2 separate regions of the Homo sapiens genome follow, and region 2 is linked to region 1. Evidence: fine-mapped expression QTL. Tissue or cell type: lung. Region 1 holds a variant in brackets; the other region holds the start of a gene. All regions are shown on one strand. Distances are between the middles of the regions.

Region 1 (8,108 bases):
GGAGTGTGAACTAGTTCATCCATTGTGGAAAGCAGTGTATCAATTCCTCAAAGAGCTAACAACAGAACTACCACTTGACCCAGAAATCCCATTACTGGGTACACACCCAGAGAAAAATAAACCATTCTACCATAAAGACACATGCATGTTAATGTTCACTGTGGCACTATTCACAATAGCAAAGACATGGAATCAACCTACATGCCCATCAATACAGATTGGATAAAGAAAATGTGATACACATACACCAAGGAATACTATGCAGTCATAAAAAAGGACAAGATCATTTCTTTTGTGGGCACGTGGATGGAGCTGGAGGCCATTATCCTTAGCAAACTAACGCAGGAACAAAAAACCAAATACCACACGTTCTCACTTATAAGTAGGAGCTAAATGATGAGAACACATGGACACAAAGAAAGGCCATTATCCTTTCTTCATGATAATGATTTTAATAAGGATTTACCTAGGTTTAAATCTAGCAACTTGCCGTTTGTTTTCTATTTGTCCTGTCCTTTGTTCCTTTTTTCTTCTTCCTTGCCTGTTTTGGATTTAGGGGTTTTTTTTAAATTCCATTTAATCTCTACAATAGGCTTATTAGATAGACCTGGGATTTTCTTTTTTAGTGGCTTCTCTAAGGCAAGTGTCAGTAAACATTTTCTATAAAGTGCCGAATAGTAAATATTTTAGAATCTGCAGGCCATAGGGTTTGTCACAACTACCCAACTTTGCCATTATAATACCAAATAGCCATAGGCATGACTGAATGTGGCTGAATTACAATGAAGCTTTATTTGCCAAAGTAGGCAGTAAATAAAATACTTTGTCAATGGTGGGGGAAAAAAAGGCTCAAACTAGATTTGGTCTACAGGTTGTAGCTCACCAATCCATACTCTAGGGTTTACAATATACATCTTAAAGGTATCACAGTCTATCTTCAGATAATATTTAATCATTCCAACTACTGTATAAGTACATCACAAGACCATATGGCTATTTCCCTGTTCCTATTCTTCATGCTACCATTGTCATGTACTTTATTTCTATAGAAGCTATAGACACCACAATACACTGTTATTATTTTTGCTTTAAATAATTACCTTTAAAGAAATTTTTAAACGAGGGGAGAAATATCTGTATATGTACCCACGTATTTACCCTTTCTGGTACTCTTCATTCTTTTTTGTGTAGAGCCACTTTCTGGTACTCTTCATTTCTTTCTGTGTAGATCCACTTTTCTACCTCGTGTCATTTTCCTTCAGCCCTGAGGAACTGTCTTTAACACTGATTGAGGTACAGGTCTATTAGTCATGAATTCTGAAACTCTAGAATGTCTGAAAAAATTTTGATTTTGACTTTAACTCTGAAAGATATTTTACTGAGTGAGAATCCTAGGTTGACATTTTTCCCCAGTACTTTAAAGATGTCTCTCTATTGTCTTCTGGCTTGCATAGTTGTTGACAAATAGTCTGAGATTTTCTTTTCTCTGTTTTAAGGTTTTCTCCTTATCTTTGGTTTTTAACAATTTGATTACAATTATGATGTGCTTGATGTGGCTTTTTTCATGTTTATTTTGCTCAGGCTTTGCTGAGCTTCTTGTGAGTTTCATTTTTCATCACATTTGGAAAATCTGGAGCTGTTTCTTCAAAATTTTTTTTCTGTCTCCTCTTTCTCTCCTCTCCTTCTGAGGCTCCAAATATATATATATGTTAGACCACTTGTTATTCCCCCACAGGCCACAGAGGCAGTATTCATTTTCTCCTCAATCATTATTCTTCATGTTATTGCCATATGTTCAAATTCCCTGATATTTTTTCCTTCTATAGTGTTTAAGCTGAGGTTAAGCCAAACCAGAGAATTTTTCATTTTGGATATATTTTTCATCTCTTAAAGTTCCATTTGTTTTTTTTTATATTGTCCCATCTTTCCTTACTATAATCAGGTATCCCTTTAAGTCCATAAATTTATAACAGCAGTTTTTAAAGCTTTGTGAAGTCCTTCTCTAATTCCATCATCTCTGTCATTTCAGGATCTGTTTCTACTGACGGAGTTTCCTCCTGGTTATGGGTCACATTTCTTCATATGTTCAGTGTCTGGATTTTGTTGTCTTCCTTTAAAGAATGTTGAGTTATGTTCTGGCAGGCAGTTCAGTTAGCATATCAGTTTGCTTTTTTTTTTGAAATGGAGTCTCACTCTGTCACCCAGGTTGGAGTGCAGTGGCATGGTTTTGGCTCACTGCAACCCCTGCCTCCCAGGTTCAAGCGATTCTCTTGCCTCAGCCTCCCATGTAGCCGGGATTACAGGCATGCGCCACCACACCCAGATAATATTTGCATTTTTAGTAGACAGGGGGTTTCACCATGTTGGCCATGCTGGTCTTGAACTCCCGACCTCAGGTGATCCACCCACCTCGGCCTCCCAAAGTGCTGGGATTATAGGCATGAGCCACCATGCCCAGCCTAGTTTGCTTCTTTTCAGACTTCTTTTCAAACATTGTAAGCAAGGATTTCAGGTAGTCTCTGTACTCTAGAGCAGCAATTGGCAAACTTTTTCTGTAAAAGGCCAAATAGTAAATATTTAAATATTTTAGGTTTTGTAGACCTAAACTACTCAAACTGAACTATGTAAACAAATGAGTGTGGCCATGTTACAATAAAACTTTATTTATAAAAATAGGTGGCAGGCTAGATGGGCTAGGACTTAGCCCATTGGCCACAGTTTGCCAGCCCCTGCTCTAGAGCCAGTTTAGCACTACTACCAGTGGCCCTGTGGGGTCTCTACTGACAGTCCAGGGTGTTCAATGAGGTCTTTCCACCCTAATTAGTCAGAATTTGAATGCCTTCCAGTCCTTTGTGAGCCCTGGTTATTATTCATTTTACAGCTCCCTGATCTTTCTCTTTTCCCTAGTAGTGGTCTTTCCTGGCCTCATGGACTCACAACTCCGTGTAGGCGTAGCTTAGCCCTCAGCCAAAACTGAAGAGTACTCTAAGGCATATTTATGAAGCTCTTTCTCTAAATAGCTCCCTCCCCTCCCCTATTCTGCCTCCCCAAACTCTTGTCTGTCTCCTTAACTCAATAAGACCACCATGCTCCACTTGGTTCCCTGTCCTTGTGCTGTGCTGTAGTGTGAAAAATGTCTCCAGGCAGAAATATGAGGTGATCATAGCACGGTGACGCAAGAAATGGGGCTAAGCATCTCCATTCCTAGCTGAACAAAAAGTCCAGTGGCAGAAGAGGCACAGCCAGATTATCCCAGAACCAACATACCTGCAAGGCTTCGGCTTGCCATTCCTCGACAGAGTCCACCAAATACAGGAAAGTACGGCACATATCTGCTACCTGTTCATTTTGGTACACTTCTTTTGCAATGATGCCTTAAATGACAATGTATTGGCGGCGGGGGCGGTTTGAAAAGCTAACTTGTTTCCCACAAGTCTAATTGTCCCACTGGGCAATTAGGATCTCATATTAACTTCCTAGGTTGAAAGGACCTAGGAAGGCCCACAACCAATTCCACTCTCCCAATACCCAGCAGAATTAGTCTCCAATGAAAAGGCAAAAGATTCATGATAAAAGGATAATCCACAAGAAAAATCACCTTGCTCAACTGCAAAAGGCAGTTCACTGAAGTCATGAAGATGAAAACAGAGAGGCTATTTACAGAAACATAATTTGAGGAGCAACTCACTTTACAGCTAGCATAACTAAGACTGGGAAAAAGGATATATCTTATCTTCCTACATGGGTATTTGGTCCAAAGACCCAGCATTCCTGTAACATGGATTCATTTTTCTCTTCCTGGCAACATTTCCAGGTGTGGAAGGACTAAAATAACACAGGCCACTATTTTTTATTTTAACATTCTCCTTTCACTAAAACTACTGATGTCTTCTTCCTGCAACAGGATTTTGGTGGAACACCTGCTTCTCTGCATTTTCTAGCTTATTTCATTTTATGCCAGATACGTGACATTATCCAGACACTTGTTTCATTATTTAAAATGGAACAGTAGTATGCCAGAGTTTCTCCCGCAAGTCAGCAAAAAAAAAAAAAAAAAAAAAAGAAAATTAATAGCTTTGCTCAAGGGATGTTAAATAGCAGAGTACCTTACTGCTATGAAGGTTTTATTACTTTTTACTTTTTTTAACTTAACATTGGCACTAAGTATTAAAAGCTCTACTCATTTGACTCTAATCACCAACAGGGTTGGTCTATTTCTGGAGATCCAAGACCGTGTTAGGTAAAGCCTCTCATATTAGGAGTTCAGACTCCCTTCTATAACATGTTACTAAAAACGGGAGTAACAACGAGAGAATTTCAAACTAGTATCTGCCCAGAGACTGACAGCAGCATCACCAGCCTTAAAAGAACTCCTGAGAGGTTCTGGTGCAACAGCTGGCATAAAAGAGCAACCACATTCCCTAAAAAGACTGTTTTGTTACCACCACC[C/A]CCCCCAACCTCCACCTCCCATTTTCCAAATCAACATTTCCCCAAAGTAAAAGAGACTTACCCTACTATTACTATAACAAAATCCAGTAAATTCCATCCATTCCTAACATAAGCATTAGGATGTAGCAATAATCCATACGCTATAATCTTCAAAAATGTCTCGACTGTAAAAATAATCAGGAAGGCATATTCTACTTTTTCCTGTGAAGAAAAACAAAGAAACATACCAAAAAAGCAGGGGCAGGGGAGGAAGAGGAGACAGAAAAAGGAACAGAGATTAGAATCAACACCTTAGACATATAAGCATTTCCCTCCAAACAAAGTTTCATTATGAGAAATGGAACAATTACACTGCCCCTGGGCCAGGAAGGCATTTACATTCTAACACTGAATTTCTCATAAGCAACTACGTGTGCAACACTTTTCGTTCCAGGCTGCATGACTGCATTTTGCCAACTGCCCCAATGCGTGTGATGAGTCTGCCTAGGACATAACAGGCATGTTTGTTATTTGCACACATTTGCAAAACGCAGCATGCTTTCCTCCTGAGGTTGCCAAATCAGGCCCAGAAAAGCACAAGGGTACAACAAAGATTCCAATGGTGTCTTTGAACAGAAGAAATTCATCCTCTGGAAAAAATGAAGATGCATCTGTTTTGACCCTCTCTTCCTCTTGGGTTTATGTCTGAGTTCGAAGTCACAGTCAGCTTTGTCACTGAGTAGCAAGGTAACCTTGGACAAGTCCTTCTCCTCCTCTGGATATAAGTTTTTGCATCCACACAATAAGGGAAGTAAATTCAGGATGGCAAACACCCTGCCTGCTTATTGGCATGCCGCCTCTCCCGGCTGAACTTGTGACAGGTCATCATGCACTTTCCCAGGAAACCTAGGCAGAGCCTCTGACCTTTCCTCTAGTATCCATCCCAGCAGCCATGCCCATCTGACTGCCACAGACCTCACAGGTGCTGCTCACGGGCTAAATGACTCGTAGAACCTTTCCAGTTCCAACCCATGCAACTCCATGAGCTGTGGAAAACATACCAATCAGCAAGTCTAAAAACTTTGACTCCTTCCTCTTTTACAAATGTTTTCTTTATACAGCTTCAGTTTCAATAGAAACATGGACCAACAGAGATGTGTGTAATTAACTTTGCAAGAGGCATTCCTCGGCATGAAGCTACTTAAATAACAAAGTATCATCAGCAACTGTAACTTTCCAATATGAACTATAGAGTCCTATACTAATATCAGTGGGACCCGAAAAGTTACCAATACCTTAGAGAAATGGAGGTCATGAAATTCACTCATTAAAATGCCTAGGGCAAGAGGTCAAAATAAAATAGGCTCAGGAAACACGTGAACACCACTTCTAAATGACAGGCACTGTACCAGGAGCCAGAAAAATGTCCCCACTATGGTACCTGTCATTTAGTCTGTTGGTGTGGGGGGGAGGTGTGTGGAGGGGGAAGTTTTGAATGTACACACAGAGAATTTCTCAAGAGTCACAAAAGTAGTAACTGACAAGAGCGATTCTCTATCTTCAGCCCTCCCATCAGGCCACCCCTGCCTTTTCACAACGGATTCCAGGGGGAAAAAAAGCACTTTGCTATATATTATCACTATTATATATTTTTATGCAATAGGCAAATGTGTATTTGAAAATAAATTTTATGTTTCTGAAGAGAACACTTTATATTCAGAAACATTTTTAAAAACACAAATTTTAGGATGATTCCCATAAGCCTGACCCTTTGAGGAACCGTCACCTATTAAATGTTTGCTTGCAGTATCCCCAACACCCTTGTGCATTTAAATGGAAGCCTTGCCTGTGCTGCCCCTGGGCTCCGGCTGTCTGCTGCCAGAATCGCTTCCCCTCTGTCACCGGCCGTGCCAGGCAGAACATCCCTTTGTCGTGCCACAGGTATCCTCCCTCTTGACCACCATGCAGCCATGGCCATGCATCCCAGTCTTTGCCCCCATTCTCCACTCTTCACTGGTCATATAACAGGGCTTCCTTCCAAGGACAGGGCTGTTGTGGTTCCTGTCATTTCTAAACACTTGCCCTCCAAAGCTCCCTTTGCTCCTCAGAACACCATTATAACAGTCTAGTGAACGAATTGTGTGTGTGTGTGTGTGTGTGTGTGTGTGTGTTTTGAGAGTTAGCCAGCATCAGTGTGTTTATAATTTAATTTAGAAAGCCTAGCTCATCTCCAACCTCTATACTCATGCCCCCTCTAGACTTCAGACCAGTCCTGTTCTTAGCCAGGCTCATCCCATGCCCCCATGCCTTCTTCCCCCATGCCCTTCATACAGCTACATGAAATGCCACGCTCAGAGCTACGAGGATGCCCTTCCTTGCTTACTGTCCAGATTCCCCGTTGCCCCATTCCCTGCCATATCCCCCAGAGGAGTGCTTGCTCGGGAGGCATGCGAGGCGTGGCTGCTGGAGGAACGATCACACACTCAGGCCACTGCGGTATTCTGAGGAGCAGGGACCAGCATTGCCACTGGATAGAGGGAAAGATACAGGAAGGCCTCAATGAAGCCATAACATTAACTCTGAAAGCTCAAAGAAAAAGGAACTCTGTTACTTCAACCAGAGGCAAAAATCCCTGAAAATGCCAACCCACAGTGCTCACATCAGACCCTGACCACCAAAGGCAGATTGTCAATATGTTTGAGACTTAAGAGTTCTAAGGGAACCAGAGAAGCTAAAAACAGCACACTGATTTTACAATTCATCCCTTTTTATCCTTGCTGCTTTATTTACTAGGCCAGAGAGAAAAAAAAAAGCTTTTGCTGCCATCAATATTCATAGCAGTTACATACCTACGTCAAGACAGCACACTATACTTCAGAGCAGAAAAACAAGGCAGAGAACAGACAGTACACCTCCCAAACAAAGCTTGTTTTTCCTCTCTGACTTTTATTTAGAAGAAATTTTGCCACAATAACACAAGGGCCATTAGTATAAATGAACTGTTTAACGTTCTTTTTCCTTCTCCTTTGCCCTCTCCCTGCTTTTTAAAGAATTTGGTTTCTCTTTCCAAAATCCTTAGTGAATTATTTGATGGGATTCTTCATAAGAAATACAAACTTCCTTTAATGCAATTCTTTATTACAGAGATTCTACCATGATGCCAACTGAACAATCACAGCCTGGAGAGCAGGCAGACCAGTTTGTCTAGAAGCCAATGTCATCCCGGTCCTCAATCCTGCCACTAAAAAGGAATCCTATGAAACAGGTATCCCTCCACATTCAACAAATGAAGTATTATTTTTAAATCTTGCAAAACGTCGTTCAGGAGAAGTGGGATAATTATTCGCCTTACAAAAGGATTGTTCATTTGAGAAAAGAATGTTGAATTAACAATTTGAAAAGGAAGCCAACAAGAAAGTCAGGTTCCTAACAGGCAAGGTGGGACTGTGGGCCCAGCCAAAACAGCTAGGTGAGAGGTGACACATAGAGGACACTGAGGTCTGTGGCCACGACTGATGGAAGCACAGAGGAAGAAGCACTGTCAAGGATGAAAGACTGGGATGGCAGAAGAAGGGGCCAGCAGGAACCCTCTAGAACCATACATGAAATGAGGCGTCCCTGGTATAAAAGGCCTGAGCAGGAGCTGTACCTTAACAGCCCTTCCCCAGGTACAGGGAAAG
Region 2 (8,108 bases), 300 kb after region 1:
TCTTCGATTATTTTAGGAAATCTATGTAAGAAAAAAAACTAAGTTTCAGGTGTGCCTTTTGAATTTTGTACCAGATGAATGTATGTTTTTTAAACATTAAAGTGCAGATTTTTAAAAATTAGGGTGCGGATTTTTAAAACAGATTGAAGGTAAGTAGAGAGGAATAGGGCTCTTACCTCCAGCCACTGGAAGGAAGAAAGGCATCTGGGGCGTGTAGGAAAGGATCCCAGGGTAGAAGATAGGAGTCCCTAGATTCTAATACTGGATCCTCTGTGACTAGTGTGGAATTTTGAGCCAGTGAATTCTCCCCACAGGTCTCAATTAAATCATCTGTCAAATGAGGGTGACGACATCTTCTCTACCTCACCACTGAGCTGTGAAATGAACCAGAGGCCTTACTTTTTTCCCCTGAACTCCCAGTCATCCCTAGAACACCAATTTGAACATCATCTCCTTCAGGAAGCCCTCCTAGACTTTCCCAGCCAGTTAAGTTAGCGGCTCTGTCCTCTGGATTTCAAAGAGAAATGTCTCTAGCATCATCCCTGTTTCCTTGCACTGTCCTACTTTCTTTTTTCCCTCAGAGCCAGGAATGTCTTAAACAGAGTGAGATGCTCCCAAGGGGCCACCAGCTCACAATTAGGAGTTCAATAAATACTGACTTAAGAGTGAATGAATGATATCTGTGTCTTTGTCCACATTTGTACATGTTTACATGATTCTGCAAAGAATCTAAATTTCTCTTTACATTAACAAACAGGGGGGCTGGGCACGGTGGCTCAAGCCTGTAATCTCAGCATTTTTGTTAACCAGGACAGCCCTGACAAAATAACTGGGAAAGTTCCTTTTTCTTATTGTTTTTCTTTGGTCCCTTTATCTATAGACACTGCTGCTTAAAGAAACCAGATGGCGCCAGAGCTTCTTGACCCCTGACCAGATGCCAGAGGAAGATAAGACACCATAAAACCAGCGCAAATGGGAACTGGCAAACCCTGGGTGCCTTTAGATCATGAACATATCATTATAATGCTAATTTCCCTTCCCTAAAAGAAAATCTCTGCCATTTTGTGTACATATGATATATGAAGATGCATGTTTATGAATTGGGCCTGCGTGTCTGGAGTCCCACCCTGCACATACTAACATTCCTTTCCTGCCCCATAGGAATAAAGGCAATAAACCCCTTGCCTTTTATTCTTCAAGAAAAGATGCTTTCAGAGGAAGAGCTCACCTTCTCCATTCCCTGGCAAATGAATAAAACCTGATTGCCTTTTTCAATGGGATATTCTTTGTTTGTGACTGATACACAGTGGGGAAAAAACTCATTTTATCAGGGACACTTTGGGAGACCCAGGCCAGAGGATTGGTTGAGGCCAGGAGTTTGAGACCAGCCTGGGCAATAGAGCCAGACCCCATTTCTAAAAAAAAAAAAAAAAAAAAAAAAAAAAAGTTTTAATTAGCCAGGTGTGCTGGCACACAATTCAAGTTGTTTCACCTTTCTGGACAGAACCAATATACACCTGAAATGTATTTGATGTCTCATCTCTCCCAAAAATGTATAAAACCAAGCTGTGCCCCAATCACCTTGGGCACATGTTCTCAGGATCTCCTGAGAGCTATGTCAAGGGCTATGGTCACTCATAGTTGGATCAGAATAAATTTCTTCAACTATTTTACAGAGTTTGACTCTTCTCATCAACACAATGACAAAAAACAGTGGTCCTGGGATATAAAATCATAGGCAATACAAATATTTAGTGTTATTTTCTTGAAAATATGGTTTTATCTTACAAAAATTTTCAATTCTGTTGGGGATGTCAATTTTTTTTTCTTTCCAGACGTAGTCTTGCTATGTTGCTCAGGCTGGTCTTGAACTCCTGACCTCAAGTGATCCCCACCTCAGCCTACCAAATAGCTGGGACTACAGTTACATGCCACCATGCCCCCCCCTTTTTTTTTTTGGATGGAATTTCTCCCTCTGTTGCCCAAGCTCTGGAGTGTAGTGGTGCAATCTTGTGTCACTGCAACCTCCGTCTCCTGGGTTCAAGCTATTCTCATGCCTCAGCCTCTTGAGTAGCTGAGATTACAGGCATGTGCCACCACGCCCAGCTAATTTTTGTATTTTTAGTATAGATGGGGTTTCACCATGTTGGCCAGGCTGGTCTCCAACTCCTGACCTCAAGTGGTCCACCTTCCTCGGCCTTCCAGAGTGTTAGGATTACAGGCGTGAGCCCACACATCTAGCTACCATACCCTTTTTTTTTTTTTTTTTTTGAGTCTTGCTCTGTCGCCCAGGCTGGAGTGCAATGGCACCACCTTGGCTCACTGCAACCTCCGCCTCCCGGGTTCAAGTGATTCTCCTGTCTCAGCCTCCCAAGCAGCTGGGACTATAGGCGTGCGCCACCACGCCCGGCTAATTTTTGTATTTTTAGTAGAGACGGGGTTTCACCATATTGTCCAGGCTGGTCTCAAACTCCTGACCTCAGGCGGTCTTCCCACCTTAGCCTCCCAAAGTGCTGGGATTACAGGCATGAGCCACCACGCCCAGCCTCCATGACCTTTTTAACGAAAGAAATGTTGCTTTTTAAGAAGTCTGGCGGGGATAGAACTCCCTATAGTCTCCATGATTTGTTTTACTTGTTAGCTAGTGCCTAACTCTTTCAAACGCTTTAAAATGCTCAACAGACACTTACCAATGAAATGAGTGATCTGCTTAATGCTTTAAATGAAGCAAGACAAATTAAACCCTTCATGGACTCTTCCCAGGGCTGGACAAAAATATTTATGTGGGTCAGACGCAGTGGCTCACGCCTGTAATCCCAGCACTTTGGGAGGCCAAGGAGGGCAGATCACCTGAGGTCAGGAGTTCAAAACCAGCCTGGCCAATGTGGTGAAACCTCGTCACTACTAAAAAAAATACAAAAATTAGCTGGGCGTGGTGGCGGGCGCCCGTAATCCCGGCTACTCTGGAGGCTGACGCAGGAGAATCGCTTGAACCCAGGAGGCAGAAGTTGCAGTGAGCTGAGATCGCGCCACGGCACTCCAGTCTGGGCGACAGAGCGAAACTCCATTTCAAAAAAAAGAAAAAGAAAAAGAAAAAATTAGCCAGGTGTGGTGGCGGGCGCCTGTAATCCCACCTAATTGGGAGGCTGAGGCAGGAGAATCGCTTGAACCCTGGAGGCAGAGGTTGCAGTGAGCTTGAGATTGTGCCACGGCACTCCTGCCTGGGCAAAAGAGCGAGACTCCGTTTCAAAAAGAAAAAAAGAAAAGGGCCGGGCGCGGTGGCTCAAGCCTGTAATCTCAGCACTTTGGGAGGCAGAGGCGGGTGGATCGCCTGAGGTCAGGAGTTCGAGACTAGCCTGGCCAACATGGCGAAACCCCGTCTCTACTATAAACACAAAAATTATCAGGGCATGGTGGCGCGCCCATGTAATCCCAGCTACTGGGGACGCTGAGACAGGAGAATCGCTTGAACCTTGGAGGCGGAGGTTGCAGTGAGTCGAGATCGCGCCACTGCACTTCAGCCTGGGCGACAAGAGTGAAACTCCGTCTCAAAAAAAAAGAAAAAAAATCCACTTGTACCTTCTGCTAATCAGTGTATATATTCAAGGCAACTTGAATCTATGCTCCTGGGGTGCAATCCTCAAGCTTGGCCCAAATAAACTCTCTGCTTGCATTTATTTTGCCCCAGAGTCTTCTTCCTTTTAGGTCGACACATCCATATCTGAGACCTAGGGTAATTTTCTGGGCTTCTCGCCTCTCCCTTTCCCCCATGTTTTTCTGTGCTCTCTAAACGGGCCCGGTAGAGTCCCGCATTTCCACATTCCACAGACATGTTTTCCTTCTGTGGCCCCGGGCCCTGCCAGACAGCGCACCGCGAGGCCGGCACTTCGGCGGTCTCCAACCTTTGCCTGGAAAGAGCTCGGCAGGCGAGCTAGAGGCCAGATCCCAGGACCCAGTCGTTTTAGCTCAGGGAAAGGAAGCGCCGGAGCTCCAGCCTGCAAGCTCCACTACGCAGCCTTGGACACCGCCCACATCGTAGGGCCGCGGACCCTGACAACGCCGGAACCCGGCGCCCGGAGCGTGCGCGCGGCGGACCAGAATGGCTGACGTACCGCCCTGCCGCGAGGCCCGCGTAGAGGCGGAAGTTGAGGGGACTGACGCAGATGGGGGAATTTTGCCTCGATGGCACTTTCCTGTCCGCGACTCCGCCCCCACCAGAGGGGCTAGGCTCTGGGATTCAAGATGGAGGCGCTGAGTCGAGCTGGGCAGGAGATGAGCCTAGCGGCCCTGAAGCAACACGACCCCTATATCACCAGCATCGCAGACCTCACGGGCCAGGTCGCTCTGTACACCTTCTGCCCCAAGGCCAACCAGTGGGTGAGTGCCGCCTGGCCCTGAGGACGGCCACCCGGCCGCTGCCGTCTCTTAAAGGGGCCGCGCGGGTTACTGTGGGGTGGGGGGGCACACTAAGAGGCCAGGGCGGTGGAGACGAGGCCAGGGTCTGGCCAAGAGCCTAGCCAGAGCCTGAGGGGTGTCGGGTCCGCTTGGGATTGGGGGATAGGAGTGAGAGAAGTGGCTCGAGACATCCCAAGGAAAAGCCAGTGGAGGGGAGGATTGGAGCAGGATCAGTCCCTTGGCGTCGGGTCTGGGGACGTGGGCGACCTGCCTTCTTTGCAGATACATTGGGAGTTATAAGACCGGTGGGGTCAAAAGGGTGCCTGAAAGCTTGTGTTTGAGGCTTTGCGGATTATTAGATAAATTATATGTACATTATCTATAAAATAAACACTCCTCCTCTCCCCCTGGCAAACGTAAATGAGAGCCCCTGTCGCAGAGGTCATTTGGGTTTAAAGTTTAAAATCCAATTAGTTTCGATTCTTGGAAGGAGGGGGTGGGTGGGTCCGGCTTTAATCGAACTACACAGAGTTTCGGAAAAGATTCCAAGGCACTTAGGAAAAGGGCTTCCGTGTTCACTGGATCCCCGAAGACCTTTGTACAAACAAGAGAGACCCTGTAAATGTGTTTTGTTCCATCTATGATGCTGGTGATGTCATCTCTGAATGCTCCCCTCGGACTCAGTACTTTCTGGCTTTCGTGCACTGGGGAGGGTCCGAAAAGTCACATTCAGTGTGTTCACTGATTCTTGTTAGCCCCTGCTTGAAGCTTTGTTAGTTGTTTAAAAAGCATAATTTCCCACTTTCTTGTAATTGACCCTTCCTAATTAACTCATTCAGCTACAGGCTTTACACTTAGAAAGTAATACGTAAATGCTTGTTGGATTGAATTCACCAATGACTGGAGTTCACATTTCAATAAGATACGAAATCCTTAAACTGACAGAACTCTGGAAGATGACCGTAGTATGTCGTTTACCCTATAATACAGTTGCATAGATTATATTTATCAGTAATTTATCGAAAATCATTTGGCATTTATGAACAGTTAATTCAGATGAAGAGTTTTTATAATCACGTTGTTTATCTTTGCCTCCTGGAAGAGAAGGAGATATGGGAAGCCACAAGGAATAAAATTGTAGATTGTTTTTTAAATGTAGCTATTTTAGACATTGCCTTAGTTTGAAATTTTATGAATCTTTTTTCTTTTCTTGGCCTATATATAAATTTTGAAATATGGATTGCCGACAAATGGTGAAGACTTGGGGCTAGAGTTTTCCTAGTTTTTCACAAAGGCTTTCAATATTTTAAAATTTTACATTGTGGAGTTCTGTTTTAAATATGAAATACAAGCTATAATAACCTGAATTGAAAAATAAGCTGCTACTGTTTATTTGGATCCTGGCACATAGAGCATGACAAAAATCTTTTCCCTCTTTATTATTTTACAGTGAGTTGTAACTTTGCATGATGTTTTTTGGTGGGCAAATTTTCTTTTACTGTAAGACAGTTGATTACCAGTTTCTTATAGTAATAACCTAACATTTTAAAGGTAAGAAAAAGCCTCTGAATCCTTAGGAAGGAAAATAATGATATTTAAGCTAGGGTAGTACTTCTGGAAGAAATCGAGATGATCAATTTTCTAAATTTTTTAATCCCAACACATTCAATATATGACTAACATTTAAAATGTTAATAATGCGTTGATTACAGTAAAATATTTAGGTCCATTGTAGGCTGTAAATTGCAGACTAATAAGCTTATTTATTTTTTAAAAAACACTGAACTGTGTTTAAAACCTAAATACACTCTTGTCACAGAAAATGAACTATGGTAAAGGCCTCCAATAATTACACTGAGGCAGGGTATACTTTCAGTATTCAAGATTCTTCAAGTTCTAAAAATAACAAGCTGATTTTGTTTGGTAGTAATTCTTAACCACAAAATTTGCTAGTTGTCAAAATGTACGAAAACTCCCTAGTGATGAAACAAAGTATCCTATAAGAAAGTTTCATTCCTTTCCTTTTTTAAAATTAACTTGGATAAACTTAAAAGAGAAGAAATTGCAGTATACAGGACCTTAGCTTTAAAGTTAAGAAATCTGGCTAAAATATTTTAGCTATAAAAAGTGAAGGTTTATTCTATGATTTTCTCCTTTACTAATTAAAAAAGAAAAATACTGCAGATACAGATATGTTGCTGGATTAAATATTGCATATGCTTATGCACTGAAAGGATACATTAGAAATGGTAACCACAATTTGTGGAATGAGAGGGAGACTTTACCTGTTCAAAAGTGGTTAATTTTATAATAGATGAAATGAAACAAGTTGATCTTAAACGTGAAGCATTACTTCTCCATGGGGACTATTTGGGGTCTGATTATGGGGAAAAAAAACTAATTGAGTCATTGTCTTTCATAGGAGAAGACTGATATAGAAGGGACCTTATTCGTATATCGAAGGTAAGTTTTTAAAATATGTATATTTGTTTTTAACAGTCTAGTGGTGAACAATGTGAAACGGTTCAATTCTCTTGTACATTTGTCTTTGGAACCGTCCTGCTAGTACCCTTCAAGTTTTCATCTTTCCCTAGCTGTGAAATCTTAACCAGGTTCTTTCTTTTCTCTGAGCCTTTCTGTGATTCAGAATAAACTGAACTAGAATTTATATTACCAGCCTAGCAAAGCAATTTCAAAATAATAATGATTGAGTCTAAAATGGATGCCTGCGTCTCTCTTCCTACCCCCATATTAGAAAGAAAAAGAAAGATATATATTTGGGGAAAAGACAATACATAGACTGGCTCTGTAAAATAATGTTATTGAGAGGTCGATCCCTCTGTTCTTTCATTACTACATGAGTGGTTGTCTTTTATGACTGGTTCTGTCCTCTTTCCCAACCCACAGAAGTTCTGGATTATGTACAGTGTCTTATTTGAGAGTTCTTTAGAAAGCTTGGATTATTCATGATGGCGTATTTTTTATTTTTGACTTATTCAAAAATTCATTATCTTTAAGATTGGTTTGCAAATTGCAACTTTTTTGTTAGGCAGCTTTTGGGGCCTAAAGACAACTGACAGTATATGATAGTCATGGGGTACTTGTTTTCCTGGATTCCTCTAAGGTCTTAACTCTTACAAGGGCAGGTTCCTTCCCTTGTTTTCTAAAGCTTAGGGAGTCAGCAGGAGTTATTACTGATATCTGGTCTTTTCCCTTTTTTTTTTGTATTGAGTTGCTTCATAAGGATTGCCTTTCTCCATTGATGCCAATTTAAAAGAATTTGTCAAATACTCTTCTAAATTTTGATACAAAGCTTTGAGATCTCGTCTAAATGCACTCATTTTTTTCTTCTTTTAAGTGTAATTCTTTGATATTTGTACACCAAGCTCTTTTTTCTTAGACACTTTCTTTGTTCCCTGCTATTCATCTTTCTGCTTTTAAAAAGGAAGGGATCGGCCGGGTGCAGTGGCTCACGCCTGTAATCCCAGCACTTTGGGAGGCCGAGGTGGGCGGATCACGAGGTCAGGAGATCAAGACCATCCTGGCTAACACGGTGAAACCCTGTCTCTACTAAAAATACAAAAAATTAGCTGGGCATGGTGGCAGGCACCTGTAGTCCCAGCTACTTGAGAGGCTGAGGCAGGAGAATATCGTGAACCCAGGAGGCGGAGCTTGCAGTGAGCCGAGGTCGTGCCACTGCACTCCAGCCTGGG

The links. PIP is the estimated chance that this variant, and not a neighbour inherited with it, causes the effect.
Region 2: DCP1A starts here. The variant in region 1 is fine-mapped to the expression of DCP1A in lung (TOPMed, PIP above 0.99).

The regions. Positions count from the first base shown.
Region 1 is chr3:53,647,321-53,655,428 of GRCh38, reverse strand. It overlaps CACNA1D (calcium voltage-gated channel subunit alpha1 D), which reads right to left. Exons shown (of 48, transcript NM_001128840.3): 4 at 4,511-4,650. Among named protein-coding and RNA genes, the nearest start is that of CACNA1D, 160 kb to the right of the region's middle. The variant C/A (reference allele first, on the strand shown) is at 4,450.
Region 2 is chr3:53,343,652-53,351,759 of GRCh38, reverse strand. DCP1A (decapping mRNA 1A) reads left to right here and starts at 4,217. Exons shown (of 10, transcript NM_018403.7): 1 at 4,217-4,377; 2 at 6,818-6,858. The coding sequence starts at 4,243. LOC105377094 (a long non-coding RNA gene) reads left to right here. Exons shown (of 3, transcript XR_940847.3): 3 at 881-990. RefSeq lists enhancers at 3,723-4,492, 4,028-4,618, 4,619-5,209.